Linked DNA regions of Homo sapiens. The protein of the gene in region 6 interacts with the protein of the main gene of each other region in a biochemical or structural test. Each region holds a gene or a part of one and is shown on either strand. Other genes may lie near its edges. The genes, in order: XKR7, GRM5, CLDN3, SMCHD1, GOLT1A, DLG3 and SLC15A2.

Region 1 (3,500 bases), on a different chromosome or scaffold from region 6:
GAGGGGCAGGGAGTTGAACTATGTGGGTGAGGACGGGAACAGTGTGTATTGTGGGGAAAAGGCTGGATTCGGGGGTGGTCTGGTCAGGAGGCTGACATCTTTATCCTAGTTTGTAACTATAGTTTGCTGGGTGACCTTGGGCAAGGCTCTTTCCATCTTTGGGTCTCGGTTTCCCTGTGTGTGAAATGAGATTCAATGTGATGACCTTAAGAGTTTCCCATTCCTGAAATTCTGACTCTGGGTCTATTGCCAAAGCAAAAGCCTCTGGGCCCTTGCCCCCAAAATCTTTGGATTCTAAAATGGCTAAGGGCCTGGATAAATGGAGGGAAAACCCAGAGAAGGTATAGAGAAGCTGCAGGGGCTGGCATTCCTAGAAATTAAGCAATGTTGGCCCAGCACATTTGCTTACCACGTGAGATGTTCCCACAGATGTTCTGAGTGGTGGGGCCTGGGGTAATGAAGAGGGAGATGTGTGATTGAGTCCTCCAGAATCACACCTGGGAGGCTAGGCAGTCACTCACCTCCTGATCCCATTTCCTCAATTCTGAATAAAATAATTATAATCATGAAGATATTTTTCAACCTCTTAGACTTGTAAAATCCTGAATTAAAAATTCAAATGCTTTGAGGACCCAGGCAGGTAACAGACCATAAGACCATAAGATACAAGGGGTGTCAGACAAGAGGACATTCAGGGGCAAGTAGTGTCCGAGGAAAAGGGAAGCTCCAGCTGATCATGCCATGAGAAATCGTGGACCCAGTCTTGATTTCTCAAGAGAAATGGGAAATTGGGATTTTTCCGTGAACTCTCCAAAATTTAACTACTAATTAAAATGTTTAAAAATAGTGTCAACCAAAGGAAACATATTTATTAGCCTGTCTTCTTTGTAACCTCTGGTTTAGCTCTTCAAATTGATAAGGTCTTTTCACACAGAAGATTTTATTACTAATTTAAACATAAAATGAAGCTCTGAAGAGAGAGAGGAGGAGAAAGCATACACAGACACTGCACACCTACCGTGTCCCCACAGGCCCTGTGTGAGTGTTTCAGGCATGTGATCTCATGTTACTCTGAAACCCTCCCCCCTGGTGACTATTGATATACCCATTTATCAGATAAGGAACCTTGTCCAAAAGTCACCCACTGAGGAAGTGAGGAAAGGTGATCAGTCCCAAACCTAGCTCTATCTTTTACACCACACACTGGCTACTTTGGGACATGCCAGAACAATATCTTTGTGCACAGAGAGATTGAACTCTGAGGGAACAGCAAACAGATCCTCTGGCGGGGCACGAAGCTGGCTGTGGCCTGGACACCAACCTGCAACTTCATCCCTCCCTTCCCTTTAAACTCTCTGAGCTGTTAAACTGCCCAGGGTTCTTAAGCTAATTAAAGTCCTAACCCTGTCCCCTCTGACCCTGTAGGCAGCAGAGCAGTAAGCCATGAATCCTGCTTTTCCTAATCTTGAGCTCAGTGGGCCCCAGCTTCACCCAGATAAGCATGGTTTGCTAAGCCAATTAGTGGGAGACGATCTGACATGGGATTCCTGCCAGGCTTTCGGGATCTGGGAACCCCAAAATGGGGAGAAAATTAGGCAATTGGGATTTAGGGGCCCTCCCTCTAATGCCCTCTCTATGCATAGGCCCAGACACTGCACTCTATGTCACCTAAGAAGCCCTGCATGACAGAGAAGTTCTGGAATGAGTTAGTGACCTATTGGAAGGAAATGTCAGGCTCTGGATTTCCCCTCTGGGAAACTACATTCTTGGCATAACGGTTGAGAGGGTTGAGAGCACGGACTCTAGATTCAAGTGTCCTCAGTTTAAATCCAGACTTTACTACTTCTTATATGTGACCTTGACAAGGCAAATAATCTCTCATCCGTTGTAAACTAGGGACCAAAATTGTACCCACCCGCCTCTTAGGTTGTTTCAAGGTTTAATGAGATAATGTGTAAGGGTTCAGCAAAGGGCTCATTCCATCGTTAAATGCTCAGAAACTGCTGGCAATGATTAGTGCATTAGCTTGGGCTTTGCTCCCTGTGGAACAAAGCTTTGTTCACGGAGCACATGGCAGGACAGCAAGGGGGTCCTGAAGTCCCTTGAAGCCATAATGACATGGCAGTCATTCATTTAATCTGCAGTCATTCATTCAGCAGACATTTATTAAGCACCTGCTGTATACCAGGCACTGTTCTAAGTGCTGGGAATAGAGTGGTGAACAAGACAAAGTCCTTGCCCTCTTGGAGCTCAATAGCCTAATGAAGGAACCAATAAGAAAATAAACTATGATATATATTATATGGGATATATAATACCTGGGCCAGATCGTGATAAGTGCTATGGGGAAAAAAATGAAACAGGGCAGGGAGCTACTGGAGTGCCAGGGAGAGGTGTGGCTCTTTGAGATAGGGTGGTCAGGGTGGACCTCTCCAAGGAGGTGGCATGTGGGCAAAGGGCTGCACGAGGTGAGGACAAGCTGTGTAGAGGTCTTGGGGAGGGTTTTGCAGGCAAAGGAAAAGGGAAGGGCAAGGAGAAGGCCTGTGTGGCAGAAATAGAGTGAGGGGAGCATGTTTGGAGATGCTGGTGGACAGATTGGCAGGGGCGAGGTCATGCAGGGCCTCAGAGGCCATGGCAAGGACTAGGGCTTTTACTCTTCATGACACGGGGAGCCCAGGATAATTTGGCCAGAGAAGGAACATGATCTTGACTTGTGTTTTGCAATGTCCACTCTGGCTGCTGGGTGGGGAATAGACTGGAGGGGCCGGGCACAGTGGCTCACGCTTGTAATCCCAGCACTTTGGGAGGCCGAGGCAGGCGGATCACGAGGTCAAGAGATCGAGACCATCCTGGCCAACATGGTGAAAGCCGGTCTCTACTAAAAATACAAAAATTAGCTGGGCATGGTGGTGCGCACCTGTAATCCCAGCTACTCGGGAGGCGGAGGCAGGAGAATCGCTTGAACCTGGCAGGTGGAGGTTGCAGTGAGCCGAGAGTGAGCCACTGCACTCCAGCCTGGGTGACAGAGCAAGACTCCATCTCAAGAGAAAAAGCATAAAAAAGAGAGAGAATAGACTGGAGGGAGGCAGAGTAAGCCTGGAGATGCATGAGGAGGCTGCTACAAAGATGCAGGAGAGAGACAATGGAGACTGGATCAAACTGTAGCAACAGGGATGGGGGTCTGCTTCAGGCTGAGCTAATGCGACCTCTTTCCTTCTTTGGTCCTCAGTCTCTCCACTGGGGCCAGAGTTAATGGTTCAGCATCCACTCTCTGGAATCAGCCATATCCTGCACCTGCCACTTTCTGTGATTTGGGGCAAGTGGCATGACTTGTCTGTGCCTTGATTTTCTCATCTGCTAAATGGACACTCTAATAATAGCACCTATCGCATGGTGCTTGAGGTAGTAGAAAATTAAATAATGTTTAGTGTTCAGCACAGTGCCTGGAACATAGGAAGTTCTCAACAATGATAATTAGACATTGTTATTTGTAAAACAGG
Region 2 (2,921 bases), on a different chromosome or scaffold from region 6:
GAGACACATGCAGATGGACTCAAAAGTCAAATGTCTATATAAATATGTATGTTTGTAAACACACATCTATACACACACAAATAATCTATTTTATCTGTGTGATGTTACCTCTATCAACACATATAATTATGAAACTATTTCTATAATTTGTATGTCTAGATGCATAAACAATGCATATTTCCTATATATTTTTTTAAGTACTTCTTTATGTAACAGTTGTTTGTAGATGTGTTTGGGGACAACATCTCTGGTTGGTTTGTGGTTGGTTTATATTTTCATTTAAATCTATACAGTCCACTGCTTACTTTGTAAACCCCATAATTCAAATGTATAGATCATCCAGTATTCAAGATTAATTAGTATCATGGCTCTTTTCATCTCAGAAAACACTATTAAGACAACATTCTAAACATTTGAGGGGAATAATCTTAAAATCATATTATAGGTTTTTTAATTTTTTTGAAAAGTAACTGGCTTCACAAACACCAAGTACAACATGATTTAGACAACTGAGAAACAGGCAAGTATATTTTGAAGTGCTAAAATAAAACATATTTATACAAGTACAAAGCAAAACAATGCTGATAAAAATGTTAAACTTTATGAAAAAAAATCATTTGCAGTTCACATCAAAATAATTTAACATTCTCTATTATTTTAATAGTACAAGCTGCCACAACAGAGAAAGAACAGATACACGCACACAATTTTAAAACCAAATCAGTTATAAGTGCAGAAAAAAGTAAGTACAAGCACTTTTAGCCCACACAAATCTTTTAGGATTGGCACCATCTTTCTAAAACATCTATAATCTATATAGATTTCTAATTACAACACCATCAGCAGCTGCCATTGATTTCTAGAAATACACACAATATACATAGTATATTTGTTCACATTGGGAAGATCAGTGAAATTCAACCAACTATTTTATACATGCCTCATTCTTCAATAGACAGTAGAGACTCTCCCAGGCCTCAGACCCTCTTCAAAGTGAATTCTGACTTGTCTTTATGCTTTCACTGATCTGTATTTTTTCACAGTATAAAATTGTAAATGGTAACTATAGAGATTCTGACAGCTTGAGGGTTATTAATAAGCTGTTGCTAAATGTGAACTCACATAATACCTTTGAAGTCTCCAAAACATGTACATTTTACTGGGAGACTAGCATAGGAAATGCTTTTGTTTTTTGTTATTCTTAAAAAGAGCATTTAATTCCTGGCTTGGAAGTCACAGAACTGCAGCAGAGCTATTATACAATTCATTTACAGTCAGAAATAGCTCCTAGTCTTCCTGATCACTTGCTGGTAACAGCAGTAGTTTGGGAAAGATAGTTACTTTCAAGGATTAGCACGTTTGGGGATTTGCTTTTTTTCCTTGCTTCAGTCAAATCTCTTATAATTTTTCTTTCCATACTCCCTTTCTGTTCCCCATCCCTAGCCCAGAAAGACGGTTCTTCCCAATCCAGATATGTTCTTCTTAGGCTGCCCCCACTCCTTTCCCAAAATGGAAGGATGAGTGGACTGCTTAGATTAGTCAGTATAACTTGGTTAAACCACGTCTTCTTCTTTCCATCCTGGGACATATCTCTCATTTAGGGTCACTTTGCTGAGCCTTAGCATATCCCCTTCCTTTTAGTCATGCTGGTCCCGACTGAATTATCACTGGGCACCAGGAACAGATTGTTTTGAAGGAAATTCAATGAGAATGTACCCAAATGAATTGTGAAGTTCATATCCTATAGCCCTAGAATGAATATTCAGTTCTCTTTGTACTGTAGAGTTATTACTTGGAACCTGGTATTAGAATTGGCAAAGAGACAGAGTTAGCATCATTCCAAAATAAAAGATCTCAAGAATGCATTACTAATAATCTTATGTCCAACATACAATGTATTCAATGGAGTGGCAAAAGTTATAGAAATACAGAGAAAAATATATCTTGTCCTTTTCTAATTGGATAAATCATTTTTATTATTACAGTTGATTATGATAGCATGTGGAAGTATCAGATGGCAATTTACTTGCATTAAATTTAATTTCTGATGAAGTTTTTTATAAGGTAGTGTGCTTTTTAAGAGATATGTTACTAAAAAAATAGAAAATGAATTTGACCATGAACAAAGTTTAAACATGTTCTTCAACTGGTCTAGAGTGAAACGTATTGTACTTGAGAATAAAATGAAAATCAACATAAGGATTTTATAAAACAAATTTTAAAATGTAGAGCATATCAAGAAAGGTTTTTAATACCTAAGAAGTCAAGATAGGAATCCTCAGGTGAATGCCATCCTTTTGATGAGGATCCAAAGGGTATTAACACCTCAAAAGATTTCCATTTGTTTTTCAGATAGAGGCAGACATTTGCTTTTAATGAAACCATGAAACTTAGCTAGATTTCACTTACATTTTAAAAGCCTCGGTGTAATATTTGGGATCAGGGTGCTGTGATGATGTTATTTTCAAATCTAGCATGGGAGGTTCGATTTCTTTTAAATTAATACTTTAGTACATTAATGTTAGCTTTTAATGTTTTGTATTGGGAGGTTTGACTTAAAGTTGCAAGTAAGAACAAATAGCAGAAAAGAAAACTCAAGCAGAATATTTATTAGAATTTTTTAAAGTGAAGAATGATAAATTATGCCAATGGACTGACTTCTATTTCTCAGTTTATTTTCTGTTAAGTAGATGTGAAATAAAAAAAAATACTTACCAAAGTAAGGATATTGAGCTAAAAGAAAAAGTTTTATTTATTATTCTCTCTGCCAAAATATACTTCTGCCTCACAGCACATATTTTTCATAAGGCTATCTTAAGTATAAGGCTGGGTCAACTGAACTTTAAATTTATAGGACACCTCCTCCATTTATTACTATCCTTATTTAAAAATCAAAACATTTGGTACCTGAGGATAGCTGC
Region 3 (3,045 bases), on a different chromosome or scaffold from region 6:
GTTAGGAACAGCCCAGGCTGAACCTCCAAGGCCAAATCTGAAGGGCTCTGAGCTTGGTGAAGAAGGGGGAACGATCGTCCAGGTGTGACAGCCAGGGCTTTGAGTGTAGCATTTCTGACTTCCCAACCTTTTTTTTTTTTTTTTTTTTTTTTTTTAAACAGGGTCTGCTCTGATGCCCAGGCTGGAGTGCAGTGGTGCGATCATAGCTCACTGCAGCCTCGAACTCCTGGGCTCAAGTAATTTCCTGCCTGAGCCTCCGGAGTAGTTGGGACTATAGGCACACGCCACCACACCTGGCTAGTTTTTTAATTTTTTGTAGAGACGGGGTCTCACTATTTTGCCCAGGCTGGTGTCGAACTCCTGGTCTCAAGCAATCCTCCCTTCTCAGCCTCCCAAAGTGCGAGGATTACAGGAGTCAGCCACCACGGTGCTCGGTCCTGCCCGATTTCCCACTTTTGCGGAGATCGAACCTCTTTCACCACCATTTCATTAAGGTGGGCCTCAGCCCTGACTCAGGCTCAAAGGGAGGGAGGACAGGGCTCGGAGAGGGGAGGGGACTCAATGGGAGGAGGGGGACTTCTGGGAGGGGAGAGCAGCTTAGCTAAAGGCATGCAGGCTCACGGCCAGCGATGGGAACTGGAGGGAGAGCTGGAGAGGAATTTGAGCTTAGTTAGGCTTAAGGGCATCTTTTGGGTACCTTTGCGCAGGCAGTCCCTGGCTTCTGGGCCCAGCAATTCCTGGGCTGGACAACCCCACCGCCCGGACTCAGGCTGAGCCTGTGCGACGTGTGTACGGGAGGGGCAGAGCAGCAGGTGCGCGGCTCCTGCAAACAGCCGCGGCCACGCCCACCCTGGTCCTCCCCGCCCCGCCGTTCCGGGGTAATTGGCAGCGCCCCCATCCCCACGCGGCACGTGCCAAAAGCGCCCAAAGTGGTGAGGAGAGAGAAGCCGTGTCAAATTCTTTGGGATTTGCACCCCAAGCCCCTGACGCATCCCGTCCTCGGTTTTGCCCCGGAGAATTCATTCCCGAGCAGAGAGGGACAAGGACCGAGGGGCGGGGGCTGGGTCAGGTCCCGCCCTTCCTTGGCAACCCCCCTACCCCGGCGTTGTGGGCCGCGCAGGGCCAAGTCCTTCCTCCCAGGACGCTCGGTGAAGGTGGGAGGCAGGGGCCACGTCACTGTCCTTAGGCCCTGGAGAGCGCGGCTCCGCCCCTACCGCCCCCACCGGAGCGCTGGGCACTTAGCTAAGACGCACCGGCCCCAGCCCAGGGCCAGCCCAGTCGCCGCCGCCCGCCCACAAAGCCACAGGCAGGTGCAGGCGCAGCCGCGGCGAGAGCGTATGGAGCCGAGCCGTTAGCGCGCGCCGTCGGTGAGTCAGTCCGTCCGTCCGTCCGTCCGTCGGGGCGCCGCAGCTCCCGCCAGGCCCAGCGGCCCCGGCCCCTCGTCTCCCCGCACCCGGAGCCACCCGGTGGAGCGGGCCTTGCCGCGGCAGCCATGTCCATGGGCCTGGAGATCACGGGCACCGCGCTGGCCGTGCTGGGCTGGCTGGGCACCATCGTGTGCTGCGCGTTGCCCATGTGGCGCGTGTCGGCCTTCATCGGCAGCAACATCATCACGTCGCAGAACATCTGGGAGGGCCTGTGGATGAACTGCGTGGTGCAGAGCACCGGCCAGATGCAGTGCAAGGTGTACGACTCGCTGCTGGCACTGCCACAGGACCTTCAGGCGGCCCGCGCCCTCATCGTGGTGGCCATCCTGCTGGCCGCCTTCGGGCTGCTAGTGGCGCTGGTGGGCGCCCAGTGCACCAACTGCGTGCAGGACGACACGGCCAAGGCCAAGATCACCATCGTGGCAGGCGTGCTGTTCCTTCTCGCCGCCCTGCTCACCCTCGTGCCGGTGTCCTGGTCGGCCAACACCATTATCCGGGACTTCTACAACCCCGTGGTGCCCGAGGCGCAGAAGCGCGAGATGGGCGCGGGCCTGTACGTGGGCTGGGCGGCCGCGGCGCTGCAGCTGCTGGGGGGCGCGCTGCTCTGCTGCTCGTGTCCCCCACGCGAGAAGAAGTACACGGCCACCAAGGTCGTCTACTCCGCGCCGCGCTCCACCGGCCCGGGAGCCAGCCTGGGCACAGGCTACGACCGCAAGGACTACGTCTAAGGGACAGACGCAGGGAGACCCCACCACCACCACCACCACCAACACCACCACCACCACCGCGAGCTGGAGCGCGCACCAGGCCATCCAGCGTGCAGCCTTGCCTCGGAGGCCAGCCCACCCCCAGAAGCCAGGAAGCCCCCGCGCTGGACTGGGGCAGCTTCCCCAGCAGCCACGGCTTTGCGGGCCGGGCAGTCGACTTCGGGGCCCAGGGACCAACCTGCATGGACTGTGAAACCTCACCCTTCTGGAGCACGGGGCCTGGGTGACCGCCAATACTTGACCACCCCGTCGAGCCCCATCGGGCCGCTGCCCCCATGCTCGCGCTGGGCAGGGACCGGCAGCCCTGGAAGGGGCACTTGATATTTTTCAATAAAAGCCTTTCGTTTTGCACTCGCTGGAGCCTCCTTGTTCCCAGCGCCTCCACCTCCCTGCAGAGCTCCCCCTCGGGGCGGCCTTGGCTGGATCTCGCTCTCCCGGATGGAGCTTAGAGGGAAGATGGGGTTGTAAGCTGAGCTTGGTGATGGCGGGGTGGTCACTTGCCCACTCCCTGGGGATTCGGAAGACAGCCTGTGAGGCCAAAGCCAGCGCCCAATCTAGGAAGCAGGCATGAGCACTTTCCGCACGCCATGGCTGGGGATGGGAGGGGAAGGTGGCAGAGATGTGCCCCTGGGTCTGTGCTGGGAGCCCGGACCCCGCACAATACCCGACACATTCGGAATCTCCCGTGCGCCTTGTGAAAGAGCGCATTCCGTACTGCCATTTCCTATTGGAAAAACGAAAACAAAAAGACCTATTGTTTGGATAAAACACGCCACCAAAAGTAAAACCGGGCCAAATCTTCTCACCTGGGGGAGAGATGAGAAAGGGTCCCCATCTCCTTCCTGGGACCC
Region 4 (3,396 bases), on a different chromosome or scaffold from region 6:
ATTATGAATATTAAATGTTTTATTTTGCTTGTCTTTGTTACTTTTCTGTAATAAGCATTATAATTCCTGTTCTTAAAATAATAAGTTCATTTAAGGAAAAGGGGGTGAAAGGAAAAATCTGCAGAATTTAGGTCTGAGATAATACCATTTCAAAGCACTGTGATACAAATTACTTATATATGTTATATACTGTGTGTGTGTTAACTACTTTTATTTGGGGGCTTGTTTTGCATACATGTGAAGGAAATGATTATATATAAGGATTTAATTAAATCTGTTTATACCAAGAATTATATTTAAAAGAATATGGTTTCATTGGATATTTAAGCATTCAGGTGTGATGAGGGAATTCAGGGAAAGGAAACCTTTGGTACATAAAACTTTTTTTTCTTTCCCCTTTGACCAGGATTATAACCAAAACAGATGTATGAGAGGTGACAGAGAGAAGAGGCCATTGGTCTCAGTAAGAATGCCCTGCTTTCTGCATCTCTGTTTCAGAAGACCAAGAGGGTGACTTACCAGACTGAGTATTTCTGGGGACAATACAAGTACCTGGGCATGAATTTCCATTTCGATTCAGATGGGACTGGAAACAACCATTCAATTTTATGAATCTTACTGGACATTATGGATTTACTGGAATTATTCCAGACATTATGCCCTTTGGTTGTCACTACCTTGCAAATGTGTAAGAGGAAAATGTGCTAATGTGGCAGTGACTGTAAAACTGGCACATGGCATTTATTAATCCTGAAGAAAAGTACATGTACTATTTTTCAGTATAAATATAATGAACATGTCAGAACTATTTCTTGAAAACCTTTTTATTACTTTTGCGTGAATTTATTTAACAAAGATGTTTTGTCTTTTGTGTAAGGGAGGTTCTAGAGGCTAGATGTTTAATTGTAAATATGTGAGGAAACTCAATGCAGAATTCAGGATAAAAATTTTAAAAGCACAGGTATTTGGGAATTGAAATGTTAAGATACCCAGAACAACATTAAATCAATGAGTGAACTTGTGACAGTGGTAGCATTTCAAATTTCAAAAGACTTATCCTGTGTGTGTGTGTGTGTGTATATATATATATATATATAAATATATATATATAAAATATTCAGCAGCACCAAGTTTTATAACTATTGTTTGTTTGACTTTATTAATACTAGAATATGTAGTCTCAGCCTTAATTTTACATTTACATTATTTTGTAATTTTTTATTACTATTTTTAAGGGGTTAAAGAGAACATACATTCTCACATTAGTGTACTTTCTGGTAGAAAGTTGCTGCAAAAACATTTGAAATGTATATTAACCTAATGTATGTCATATATATGTCTTTGTGTAAGTTCAAGACTATTGATCTGTGAAGTTATTTTGTAAGGACATACATTTGGTAAGTAAGTTTGTGTCCCAGGAAATGTATGTGTTTTTAAACCCTTTCTAAATATGCAGGCCATTAATAAATAAGATTGTTTCTTCCCTACTGAATAGATAAGTGTTTTTCTTTTTTAAAATTGGAAGCTTCATAAAAGTTATCTTGTTAAAAAACGATGATGATGTTAACCTATCTATCTTTATAATTGGAAATTATTTAAACTGTTTGTTGTTACAGAAGAAACAAAATGGTAATTACAGAATTAGCTGTGGGGAAGATTGGCTCCCATGGTACTACAGGTTGAGTATCCCTTATTCAAAATGGTTGGGACCTGAAGTGTTTTGGATTTTGGTTTTTTGTGGGGTTTTTAAATTATTATTTTGGAATATTTGCATTATATTTACCAATTTAGCATCCCTAATCCAAAAATCTTTCATTAGAAATTGGAAATGCTTCAATGAGCATTTCCCTTATGTGTCATATCTGCGCTCAAATGTTTTGAATTTTGGAACATTTCTTGTTTCTGACTTTTAGATTAGGGATACTCACCCCGTACCAATATTTGGAGTCCTTAGACATTAGATTATATGAAAATGATTGATTGATAGGTAAGAAAGGTTAAAGAGAAATGACTTTTTAGGAACTAGACTTGAACGTATAATTAATATGTGGAACTAGTTTGCTTTTATAATTCATTGTATCAAGAAGGAGTCATGTTTTAAATCCAAGGCATTGAGACTATCTAGAAGCAAAAAAGTTGGTTTTAAAAATTCTTTTTATTAGAAGTGTGTTTAAAAACATGTCTTTTTTTCCCTTGAGCGACAGTGGCCTCACTACATTGCCCAGGCTAGTCTTGAACTCCTGGGTTCAAGCAGTCTTCCTGCCTTGGCCTCCTAAGTAGCAGGGATTACAGGCATGCACCCACATGCCAATTTTTATTGCTTAAAATGGCGAGTTCTATGGATATTATCTAGCCCCAAGCCCATATCTGTACACTTTTGTTCATTTTATAATACCAGAAAGAATGTTCTATCAGTAAAAGAAGGTTTTTAAGTATGAATCTCCATTTTTGTGGAGTTTTTCTACCCTGTAAAAATTAACTTTGTGGTTCCCAGTAATTACAGTAAGGAGTTTTTCTATATTTTCACAGTTGGATTTATCTAAGGATATTTCTCAGCATATTAAGGAATCCTTTTCTACATTTGAGCAAATACTGAGGTTCATGTTGTACCAAATAATAATAAATTGCTTTTGTGTTTAATATGTAACACGTAAGAACAATTGAAATTTTCTTCTAAGATTTAATACTAGTCTTTTAGTATAAAGGAATGTAACTGGAGAAAAAAATTAATGCTACAGCCATTTATCCTGTGTTATGTGTTATATAATCTGAAATTTGTCACAATGTTACAATCAGGAAGTTTTTTTTCTGGTTTCTTCTTCCAAAGGAAAATAATAGCCTACTTGTATTTTGAAGTAACTGAAATAAAACTCTCTCCAAGCCTTTTTGCACATTACGTTCATCAGTTTTCATGTGTACATTTGGCCAGGCCTATGGTAAAAATAGGCTCAATTTACTTAACATTTTTATAGGGTTTTTGGTATAAGATTCTTTACAGAGACTAAAATTTGTTGCATATATAACATTCAGATTATTTTAAGTGAAATTGGCTCCTATTGTTAAATATTAGTGCTAAGGAAAGTTCAGTCTTCTAAACTGTCTATACTTTGGCTCTGTGACTTGATTACTTTATAGTCATTATGAAATTGATGGGGTTAATTCCATTGTATTTTTAGTATAGAATTTTCAAATAATACATTTTAGTAAAAAAATTGAATGTTTAATTTTCATACTGTGAAACTGGTGAAAAATATTAAAAACAACCATTTAAAACTTCTGGAAATGGTCCTGAGGACAAATGGCAATGAAGAAACATCTATTCAAGAACATTTACAAAAATTCAGTAAGGAAGATGAGAATCTGTGGTAGTTTGAACCAAGACTGACTACTCACTTC
Region 5 (3,163 bases), on a different chromosome or scaffold from region 6:
GGCTTCTGCAATCATGGAAAGGTGTGGGGCTCAGGAATCCCCAGGTTCTCACAGGAGCCCCCGTTTGCTGAAGGCAGCCCTGAAACCCCCTGATTAGCCTGAATGGCCTAGGCCTCAGAGACTTTGGGAAGTGTGGCTTTAAAGTTTCTCATGCATACCTGCCATCTATTTATTCCATATTCAAATATGTCATTTTATGGCTGGGTGCAGTGGCTCACACCTATAATCCCAGCACTTTGGGAGGCCGAGGCAGGCGGATCACTTGAGGTCAGGAGTTCGAGAACAGACTAGCCAACATAGTGAAACCCTGTTTCTACTAAAAATACAAAAAAAAATTAGCCAGGCTTGGTGGCAAGTGCCTGTAATCCCAGCTACTCGGGAGGCTGAGACACAAGAATTGCTTAAACGCAGGGGGCGAAGGTTGCAGTGAGACAAGATCACACCACTGCCTCCAGCCTGGGTGACAGACCGAGACTCTCTCTCTCAAAAAAAAAAAAACAAAAACATATATATATATATATATATACACATATATGTCATTTTCAAACAGTCGCTTATTCAAATTGTCAAATATATAATAAGCACCTACTGCATGCCAAATACAGGGCCAGGTGTGAGGATGTGGCACTGAATGAGGAGAAAGTTCCTAAGGAATTTACAATTTAGTAGGGAAGACCCATAAATAAATTCTGACAACAGTTAGCATTTATGGAGGGCTTAGAAAGTGGAGTGGGACAGCAGCAAATTCAATAGTTCAAACTGAAAGTCAGCCTTGACAAAGACACTGTGCAGTAACACAGGAGGCAAACAAATTACAGCTATCAGGGACCTCAGAGTGCAGTGAAACCTTGGAAAATTGAGGCCCACGGTAAGGAAGTGGCTCAGCCAGAATCCATATTTCAAATCTCCCTTCCCATCCGCCACACACCGGGATCCCTTCCCATGCCAGCCTTGGCACCTCCAAGCCCTGTGAGGGGTCACGCATGTGTCTGCAGTCAGGCCTTGGCAGGGTATCTTTGATGAGAGCAGGGTTGCCAAAGGCAGGGGTGGCTGTGTGCCTGGGGGAGCCAGGGCACCAGGGAGTGTAACGGTGAGCATGGCTTCCAACAGCCCCCGACGCCCAGGGCCCAGGACACCCGGGGCAGGTGGATCTCAGGAAGAGAAGAAAGCTTTAGGCCAGAAGAGTCATAATCATGAGAGTAACAATAATAAAAATAAGCACTTCCTGAGCATTTCTTTGTACGTGGCCTTATGATGTAGATACTGTTATTGTTAGCCACATTTTATGGCTGGAAATTGAGATTCAGAGAAGTTAAGGAATTTGCCCAAGTGTATATGGTGCCAGTAAGTGGTAGAGCCAAGAAGTGAACCCAAGGAGTGTGACCCTGGGGCCTTCATTCTTAATCATGTCACTCGACTGTCTCTCGGAACACAGGAGTGCAGAATCAAGCCTGTCCCTGGTGTGTGGAAGCCAGAGCTTGAACCTTTCAGTGGACCTCAGCCTCGTGCCCTCTATCCTCTCTTCCTGGGCCATCACTGACTCCTCCCTTCTCCCCTCTGCTCCTAGGGGCTTTTTCCCTGTCGCCTTCGGCTTCCTGGGCAATGTCTGCAACATCCCCTTCCTGGGTGCGGTAAGCAGATGATGCCTGCAGCCCTGCGGGCGTACCCTGGGGAGTGAGGGGGAGCACACGGAGGGGAGCTGGTAAAACTGCTGCCCCAGGGGCAGTGGCCTCTCCCCTGTCTCCCCTCAGACCCCCTAGCCCAGGTTTGGTGCTTTAGGCTCCTCTTCCCCCCGCACCTTCTCCATTTGACAAGAGCCCATGAGGAGAGGGGATCCAGACGCAGTTGTAGCTGAGTGTGGCTGTAGAGGCAGGTAGCTATGAATAGCTTCCTGTTTACAGCCAAAGAAATGAAGACGCAGAGACTCTAGGTGACTCAGCCAGGACATGCCTGAGATTTCTGGGGATCTGGCTAAGTGCGGGCCCCAGGCATGGAGAGAATGTATGACAGCTGATGACAGCAGGAAAAGCTGTCCTGCAGGTGGCAGATTTTGTCCTCTCCTGGGGATAGGCACAGCCACTGGTATCCAGCCCCTGCCCCTCCTTATCCCTTTCTCTGAAGCACCTGGCAGAATGTGAGCTCTCTGAGGAGCCCAGGGAGACCCTACAGCCAGCACCCCACCACAACCGCCAGCTGGACACAGCCCCTACAGCCCCTCTCGTATCTGCGCCTGGCACAGCTCCTGGCTCTCAAGGCCAGCTCTGTAATAACTAGATATTGCATCTGCTCTCTACCCTTTGTGTGGAGTAATGATTCTTGGCTCCCACAGCTGTTCCGGAGACTTCAAGGCACTAGCTCGATGGTCTGAAAAACAGAGATGAGCTCCTTGAACTTGGATCATTGGTTGAGGGGGCTAGAGGGAGAATGGGAACCACCCCCTCAGTCCCCTGCACTGACTCACTCCCCGACATATCCGGACCTCCCCAAGTCCAGAAGGAAGGAATGGAGCTGAGCAACTGACGTCAAATCCCCAAGTCGACTCAAGAGGCTGCCAGGAAGCAGAGATGCAGACCCCAAGGAGACTGGGCTGGGGCTGGTATCACACCCTCACTCTATATTTATGGGAGGAAAAGTGAAGATTAAATTCCCAAGTTGTGCGTGTGTCTAAGGCTCAGAGTTGGCGTCTTTGGCCGGGCGCGGTGGCTCACACCTATAATCCCAGCACTTTGGGAGGCTGAGGTGGGCAGATCACCTGAGGTCAGAACTTCGAGACCAGCCTGGCCAACATGGTGAAACCCCGTCTCTACTAAAAATACAAAAATTAGCGGGGCGTGGTGGCAGGTGCCTGTAGTTCCAGCTACTCAAAAGGCTGAGGCAGGAGGATCGCTTGAACCCAGGAGGCGGAGGTTGCAGTGAGCTGAGATCGCACCACTGGATTCCAGCCTGGGTGACAAAGCCAGACTCCGTCTCAAAAAAAAAAAAGTTAGCGTCTTCAGCCCATTAAGACCACCTCCTGCTTCAGGACAGGCCAACGTACACATCATCCCCACAGCGAAGTTTTGGTCTATGAGGGTCAGTGCTGTCCTCATAGGCTATCATTTCTGTCCTGGTGTTTAACAGCCCTAATGGGTGTGATAATAATATGTTTGCAATCCCCTGTTAA
Region 6 (3,500 bases):
CCTAAGAAATTCGATCTCTGAAGTAGACAGGCCCTACTTTTTGCTCCTATTACCCAGAAAAGGCCACATCTGTCCAGGGCCCCCTATTCCCTGTTGGGTAATGCTCTGGGGTGAGTTGTATGAAGGAGACAGATAGCTTCGTCAAGGCGCTGGGAGTATGCAGATGTGCTATGGCTTTGGTCAGCAGCACTGTTGGGCAGCTCCTGTGTTGGAAGGATAAGGATCCAAGTGGAACCTTGGCATAAGCATTGGCCTCCCCTTTGAGGCCATCTCCTGTACACTTACCCTCTCTGCAACTGCCCGCACTGACTGGATGCTGGTCCCATAGAGGTTATCATTAAATTGGCCCGCCTCGATGAACTTGTTGTCCTGAATATCTTTCTCCATTTGTTCTCGGGACACCACAAAGTGGTAGTCTTGTCCATCCACCTCATTATCACGTCGAGGCCGGGTAGTATCTGAAGGAAGAAAGGAAATGCTTTGTGGCCCAGGGGCAGTGATCCGCCCCAAACCAAAAAATACTGACTGGTCCATTCTCATCTGGGTGGGTCACTGGGCCACTCCATTTTTTTTTTCAAGTAAGTGGGAGAAAACAAGCAGTTGGGAAGCGGTTTGTCTGGCCTACTTCTCTTCCAATCTCCAGGTCTCACACAGGGGGCTATTTGCTTTAGCTTAAACTGGACTAGAAAGGTGGGGTTTCCTGAGCTAAAGCATGGCAGAGGGTGCCAAACTTGGTAGAGGAGACAGTGAACCTAACAAACTGTTAATGGAGTCACATCAACACCACTTTGGCTGGGCCTCCGTATTTGTCCAATCATTCTCAACCATCACCACTGAAACTTCCCCTCAAGAGTGAGCAGCCAAGCCTGATGGCTTAATCTCTCCAACCCCATCAGCTTTTGGGGAATATATTGCCACCTACTGTTTTCCAGCGTGTCAAATGTACCCTGTCCCCAAATAGCCCTAGAATCTGATCCCAGACCTTTTCCATAAAACATTAGAGCAACAATTCCCAGGGCACCAAGCCTCACTCCTCTGGGCCTTCCTGGACTCTTACGTGGCACACAGGATCCAAATTTATGTGGAAATTCGGAGATCAGGTCATCATTGACTCGGTCCTTCATTGGGCCCAGGATGATCACAGGCCTTGCATAGTGAACTAGAGAGGGAGAGCATCGAGACAGTGAACAGAGGCCCCCACCAGACAGCCTGTCCTACCCCTGAGTCTGGCTAGAACACAGAGGCTCTGGAGCAGAGACTCAGACAGGGTAAAGCATCCTCAGACATTGTCTGGCTTTTAAACAGAAAGACATCAAAGAGCCTTTAATTTGAGAATATCTAAGTTCAAGGCAAGTCTGAAACCGGAAGCTGCTCCCCTTCTAACAGAGTCAGAAAAAATCTCTGCACTGACACCAGTAACTGAGCAAGGTTTTTGCAGAGCAGCCACTGAAGGGAAGAACCTGGACCTCTCTTTTAGCAGTGGCTACATCTACTGAAATAGACTTTCCTTGTAAATTTGCCCCCTCCTTTGGAAGGTGTCCTGGCAGCAGGCAAAGGCACAGAGAGAAGTGCACACTGGATGCACCCCCTTCCCTATGACACTAGGAAGAAGCATAGAGAAGAAGGAGCCCAGGGGCTGGATGTGCCATGAGTCAAGCCTTCCTCCTCCTCCAGGTCCCTCCCTCTGCTGCCACAGCCACCCACTGTATTGAGCCCCACGACCAGGAGACCAGCACGAAGACAAGGCTCTCAGAGGAGGCTTACTTTCTTGCCGTGTCACTGGCTCATATGACAAAATAGCATCCTCTTGTCCTTCTGCAACAAAAAAGAGAGATAGGTTAGCACCATATGATCTGCCTCCTTCTGTACAGTACTCCCCGTACCCCTCCCCTGCCAGGACACAGCCTTATCAGGTGGTCCTTGCCACCACCTGTGATCCTTTCTGTTTTCTGCTGGTGAGAAAGCACATGAAACCCTTCACTGGCTCTGAGACAGGAGTCAGCAGTTCTCTTGTTCAGTGAAATATCACTGGGCAAAGGGCCAAGGCCCAGAAGCCATGAAGCCTCCACCCCAAACCACCCCAATTTGTGAGGAACTCTTCTTGTAGGTAACAAGTCAGCTGTGTGCAGTAGCCCCCTTGCTCTGGTAAGAATGACAGGGACACTTTGACTGGTTGAGATGCTTGCCCGAGTCCCCTTCATCAACATGCAGGGGAGTCAGGGCACACACCCAGGTCCCCAAGCAGCCTAACTTTGCCCTTTTAAAGGTCTACCAACCCACCTCCTGCATTGGAAGCAGCATCCAGAAAAGTGGCACATGGCTCTGCTAAGGTCCCCAGTGCCCTTTAAGAGCAATGCTGAACCTGCTGTCTCTTCCTGGTGGAGCCCCATGTCGAGCCTAGCAATGTTGAGGTTTTCCTAAAACAGTCGTCAAGCCACTCGGTGCTGGGTGCCTGGAGGTCCCAAAGTGGCTGATGGCAGTCCCAGGGAAAACAGTGATATTTGCATCAAGGCACACAATGCTTGCTAAAAGGCTTCTTCTGAGCCTAATATTCCTGGGCAGATTTTACAAGGCTTCTAGCCACCATAGCTCCTGAAAAACCAGTGCTCCCAAAGTTCATGAGGTTTGAATTACGGTTTCTCTGGTCTGGTCACAGGATCTCCCAAGGAGAACTTGGCAATTACCTCATCCTTTAACTGGCCCCAAAGGCAAAGAGGTCCTAATGACCTGGAAAGGCAGATTTAGGGCAGTGTCCTAGAGGAGCCATTTTTCTTTTGGTCTCTGAGCAAATCTATAAACCTGGCAGCACCTATGGCCCACAGTACCCATGGCAGGGATTTACTCTTTGGCAGTTTACCCTTCCCAGTGCCAGGGATGCTTTTAAGTCAGGTCCCGGCCAGCACTATAGGGCTTATACTCTCCTTTAATCCATGGGGTGAACCCCAACCCATAAGGAGAATGAACTGGCCACAGCATTTCTAGGATCTCAAAGTGTACATGGCTAAAAGAAGCACCAGCCTCTGAGCAGCAATGGCAGCTGTGCAACACTGGAATGAGGATGGCTGGGATACACAGTGGAGCTACACGACATGGAAGGAATGACACACACTTACTGGAACTGCTTTCGCTGTCACTGGTGTTGGATGTCACTCCCTCTGCAAGCCAACAAGAAAGAGACTCCAATTCAGAACACACCACTGAGAGGTCACATGCAGCACAAAACTCAAATGCTCCAGGAGCGAGACACTGAGCTGCCAACTGAGTCAGGCCACCAGAGGCCTGCCACATCCAGGCTACCAACTGGGAGGCACAGCTCCAATCCTGAGCCCCTGGCCCTCTCGTACTTGTCCCCAGAGCCCTCTTGGTCTGCCAAGTCCCTCCCTATGTACTACAAGCCATACTTCCTTCAGCAGCATCCTCTTCATCTGAATCAAATTGACCTGGATGGTTTCCAAATCGTATTTCAAAATGCATCTCCCAAGGCTAACAACAGGAAAGAA
Region 7 (2,644 bases), on a different chromosome or scaffold from region 6:
AAATGTCCATTGCGTGGCAGCTACCACAATATGCCCTGGTTACAGCTGGGGAGGTCATGTTCTCTGTCACAGGTCTTGAGTTTTCTTATTCTCAGGTAAGTTTTTGCAAATAGAAGGTAGAAATTGAGGCATTGCTTGAAGGACAATGAATTTTAATTCTAGCACTGACTTAAATAGGTATGTTATCTCTTTTGGCCTTGGGTACCTTATTTATGACCCTGAACATATATGACCTGAACATCTTAACTCCCCAGGTCATGACAGTACAGCATGGGAGTCTATGATTTTGGGGTTCTAGGAAAGAGATTAAAGATTAAAATGAAGAGCTGCAGAGTCAGACTTCCCGTGTTCAAATTTTGGCTGCATGACCTATTGTGTAACCTTGAGCAAGTAAATTACTATCTCTGTAATGCTGTCGCCCAGGCTGGAGTGCAGTGGCGCGATCTCAGCTCACTGCATTCCAGCCTGAGCGACAGAGCGAGACTCCATCTGCCTCCCCGGCTCAAGCGATTCTCCTGCCTCAGCCTCTTGAGTAGCTGGGATTATAGGCGCACACCACCATTCCTGGCTAATTTTTGTATTTTTAGTAGAGACAGGGTTTCACCATGTTGGCCAGGCTGATCTCTAACTCCTGACCTTGGATGATCTGCCCACCTTGGCCTCCCAAAGTGCTAGGATTACAGGCTTGAGCTACTGCGCCCAGTCTGTAATACTATTTTTTAAATGTATAAGAATACGAATAGAACTTATCTCTTAGGATTGTAATGAAGATTATATGACATAATGAGTTTAAATATATTCAGTTAGGAGCTTCATCTTATTCTTACTGTTTACATTATTAACACCCTCTGAATCAATGTGATAGCTGAACTTAATAAGAGAAGTTCTAACTTGGAAGCTTTTGTGGGAGAAGTTTCCTGGATGCATGGGGCATGAGGGCAGTGAAGGGGGTTTGTTTACTTTCAAACTTGTGTCATCCCCAGGCTCCCTCTAGCATGAAATCTGTGCTCCAGGCAGCTTGGCTATTGACAATTGCAGTTGGGAATATCATCGTGCTTGTTGTGGCACAGTTCAGTGGCCTGGTACAGGTATGGATCTGAGGGAAGCAGGATTCATTTCTACTCAAGTTTTTCCTCCAGCTTTCTCTTCTCCCTTTCCCCCATCTCTCTGCTTCCCACATTCCCCATTCAGTGCTGTGACATGAAATGGGTTAGATATACAGACTTTACCAGGAAAATAGACATATGTAAGTGGCAATAATGACTACAATATACCTATGTGAGGAGAGGCCAGTGAACCCAGTCTTTGTCCAGCAAAAGTCTGGTTAAACTGGTGATCCCAGGTCAGTCTGCTCCCCACTCCTCATCCTGTAAAGATCTCTTTAGTTTCAGGTTTCTCCATATTCTTCTCATATTTATTTCCCCCTGCAGTGGGCCGAATTCATTTTGTTTTCCTGCCTCCTGCTGGTGATCTGCCTGATCTTCTCCATCATGGGCTACTACTATGTTCCTGTAAAGACAGAGGATATGCGGGGTCCAGCAGATAAGCACATTCCTCACATCCAGGGGAACATGATCAAACTAGAGACCAAGAAGACAAAACTCTGATGACTCCCTAGATTCTGTCCTGACCCCAATTCCTGGCCCTGTCTTGAAGCATTTTTTTTCTTCTACTGGATTAGACAAGAGAGATAGCAGCATATCAGAGCTGATCTCCTCCACCTTTCTCCAATGACAGAAGTTCCAGGACTGGTTTTCCAGTACATCTTTAAACAAGGCCCCAGAGACTCTATGTCTGCCCGTCCATCAGTGAACTCATTAAAACTTGTGCAGTGTTGCTGGAGCTGGCCTGGTGTCTCCAAATGACCATGAAAATACACACGTATAATGGAGATCATTCTCTGTGGGTATGCAAAGTTATGGGAATTCCTTTATAGGTAACTGCCATTTAGGACTGATGGCCCTAATTTTTGAGGTGCTGATTTAGAGGCAAAATTGCAGAATAACAAAGAAATGGTATTTCAAGTTTTTTTTTTTATAAGCAATGTAATTATGCTATTCACAGGGGCCTCAAGAATTGGTATGTATGATGTGATCTGGTCCAGCCAGGGCCTGGCTTGTCAGCTCTCTAGGTTTGATATGACTTTAGTAAATTTGTCAATATAGATGGTAGGAAGCAGAATGCCATTTTATTAAAACACAGGAGAAGTTATATCTCTCTGATTATGATAGTATTTTATTTACTTATCCAAACCCTCCTTTCTCAGTATGGATAGATCATGGAAACCAGATTAGAGATAGTAAGCATTAGTAAACATTGTTCTGGAGAACAGGAACAGGTGTAAGTTGTAGAAATCCTGAAGAGCCAGTCATTCTTTTACAGAGTACATTCTTCTTAGCCTCTATGGCGCTGGTCTATGCCCTTCAGTGAACAGTTGTATAAACAATAATTATAATTTGCAACCTTGTCTTGTCAACCTTGCTGATCCAGCTTTTTCTTATTATTACACCTTGTCTTGCTTATTGCAGCAAATATTCAATAACAACAATGTTTCTATAAGTCCAACTTCCTTTATTAATGTTTCCATTTAGCCTCAAAAATATCAAAGTAGTTCCTTTTTGATGTTGTTTTCCTGATTTACTTT

The links.
Region 1: the proteins of DLG3 (region 6) and XKR7 interact in a test that uses a peptide from one of them, tested with the Homo sapiens proteins (one large-scale study listed by IntAct).
Region 2: the proteins of DLG3 (region 6) and GRM5 interact in a test that uses a peptide from one of them, tested with the Homo sapiens proteins (one large-scale study listed by IntAct).
Region 3: the proteins of DLG3 (region 6) and CLDN3 interact in a test that uses a peptide from one of them, tested with the Homo sapiens proteins (one large-scale study listed by IntAct).
Region 4: the proteins of DLG3 (region 6) and SMCHD1 interact in a test that uses a peptide from one of them, tested with the Homo sapiens proteins (one large-scale study listed by IntAct).
Region 5: the proteins of DLG3 (region 6) and GOLT1A interact in a test that uses a peptide from one of them, tested with the Homo sapiens proteins (one large-scale study listed by IntAct).
Region 7: the proteins of DLG3 (region 6) and SLC15A2 interact in a test that uses a peptide from one of them, tested with the Homo sapiens proteins (one large-scale study listed by IntAct).

Annotation. Positions count from the first base shown.
Region 1 is NC_000020.11:31,971,151-31,974,650, forward strand, and holds part of XKR7 (XK-related protein 7), read left to right. Parts: intron 1-3,500.
Region 2 is NC_000011.10:88,504,142-88,507,062, forward strand, and holds the end of GRM5 (metabotropic glutamate receptor 5 isoform a precursor), read right to left. Parts: 3' UTR 501-2,921; downstream 1-500. UniProt on the Homo sapiens protein: G-protein coupled receptor for glutamate. Ligand binding causes a conformation change that triggers signaling via guanine nucleotide-binding proteins (G proteins) and modulates the activity of down-stream effectors.
Region 3 is NC_000007.14:73,768,497-73,771,541, reverse strand, and holds CLDN3 (claudin-3), read left to right. Parts: upstream 1-1,271; 5' UTR 1,272-1,492; coding exon 1,493-2,155; 3' UTR 2,156-2,545; downstream 2,546-3,045. UniProt on the Homo sapiens protein: Barrier-forming claudin. Plays a major role in tight junction-specific obliteration of the intercellular space, through calcium-independent cell-adhesion activity.
Region 4 is NC_000018.10:2,802,122-2,805,517, forward strand, and holds the end of SMCHD1 (structural maintenance of chromosomes flexible hinge domain-containing protein 1), read left to right. Parts: intron 1-406; coding exon 407-431; coding exon of another isoform or gene 432-514; 3' UTR 515-2,896; downstream 2,897-3,396. UniProt on the Homo sapiens protein: Non-canonical member of the structural maintenance of chromosomes (SMC) protein family that plays a key role in epigenetic silencing by regulating chromatin architecture.
Region 5 is NC_000001.11:204,197,663-204,200,825, reverse strand, and holds the end of GOLT1A (vesicle transport protein GOT1A), read left to right. Parts: intron 1-1,567; coding exon 1,568-1,631; intron 1,632-2,329; coding exon 2,330-2,368; 3' UTR 2,369-2,487; coding exon of another isoform or gene 2,488-2,520; 3' UTR 2,521-2,663; downstream 2,664-3,163. UniProt on the Homo sapiens protein: May be involved in fusion of ER-derived transport vesicles with the Golgi complex.
Region 6 is NC_000023.11:70,496,835-70,500,334, reverse strand, and holds part of DLG3 (disks large homolog 3), read right to left. Parts: intron 3,156-3,500; coding exon of another isoform or gene 3,114-3,155; intron 1,816-3,113; coding exon 1,765-1,815; intron 1,160-1,764; coding exon 1,058-1,159; intron 459-1,057; coding exon 286-458; intron 1-285. UniProt on the Homo sapiens protein: Required for learning most likely through its role in synaptic plasticity following NMDA receptor signaling.
Region 7 is NC_000003.12:121,939,401-121,942,044, forward strand, and holds part of SLC15A2 (solute carrier family 15 member 2), read left to right. Parts: coding exon 1-95; intron 96-983; coding exon 984-1,088; intron 1,089-1,430; coding exon 1,431-1,607; 3' UTR 1,608-2,644. UniProt on the Homo sapiens protein: Proton-coupled amino-acid transporter that transports oligopeptides of 2 to 4 amino acids with a preference for dipeptides. Transports neutral and anionic dipeptides with a proton to peptide stoichiometry of 2:1 or 3:1.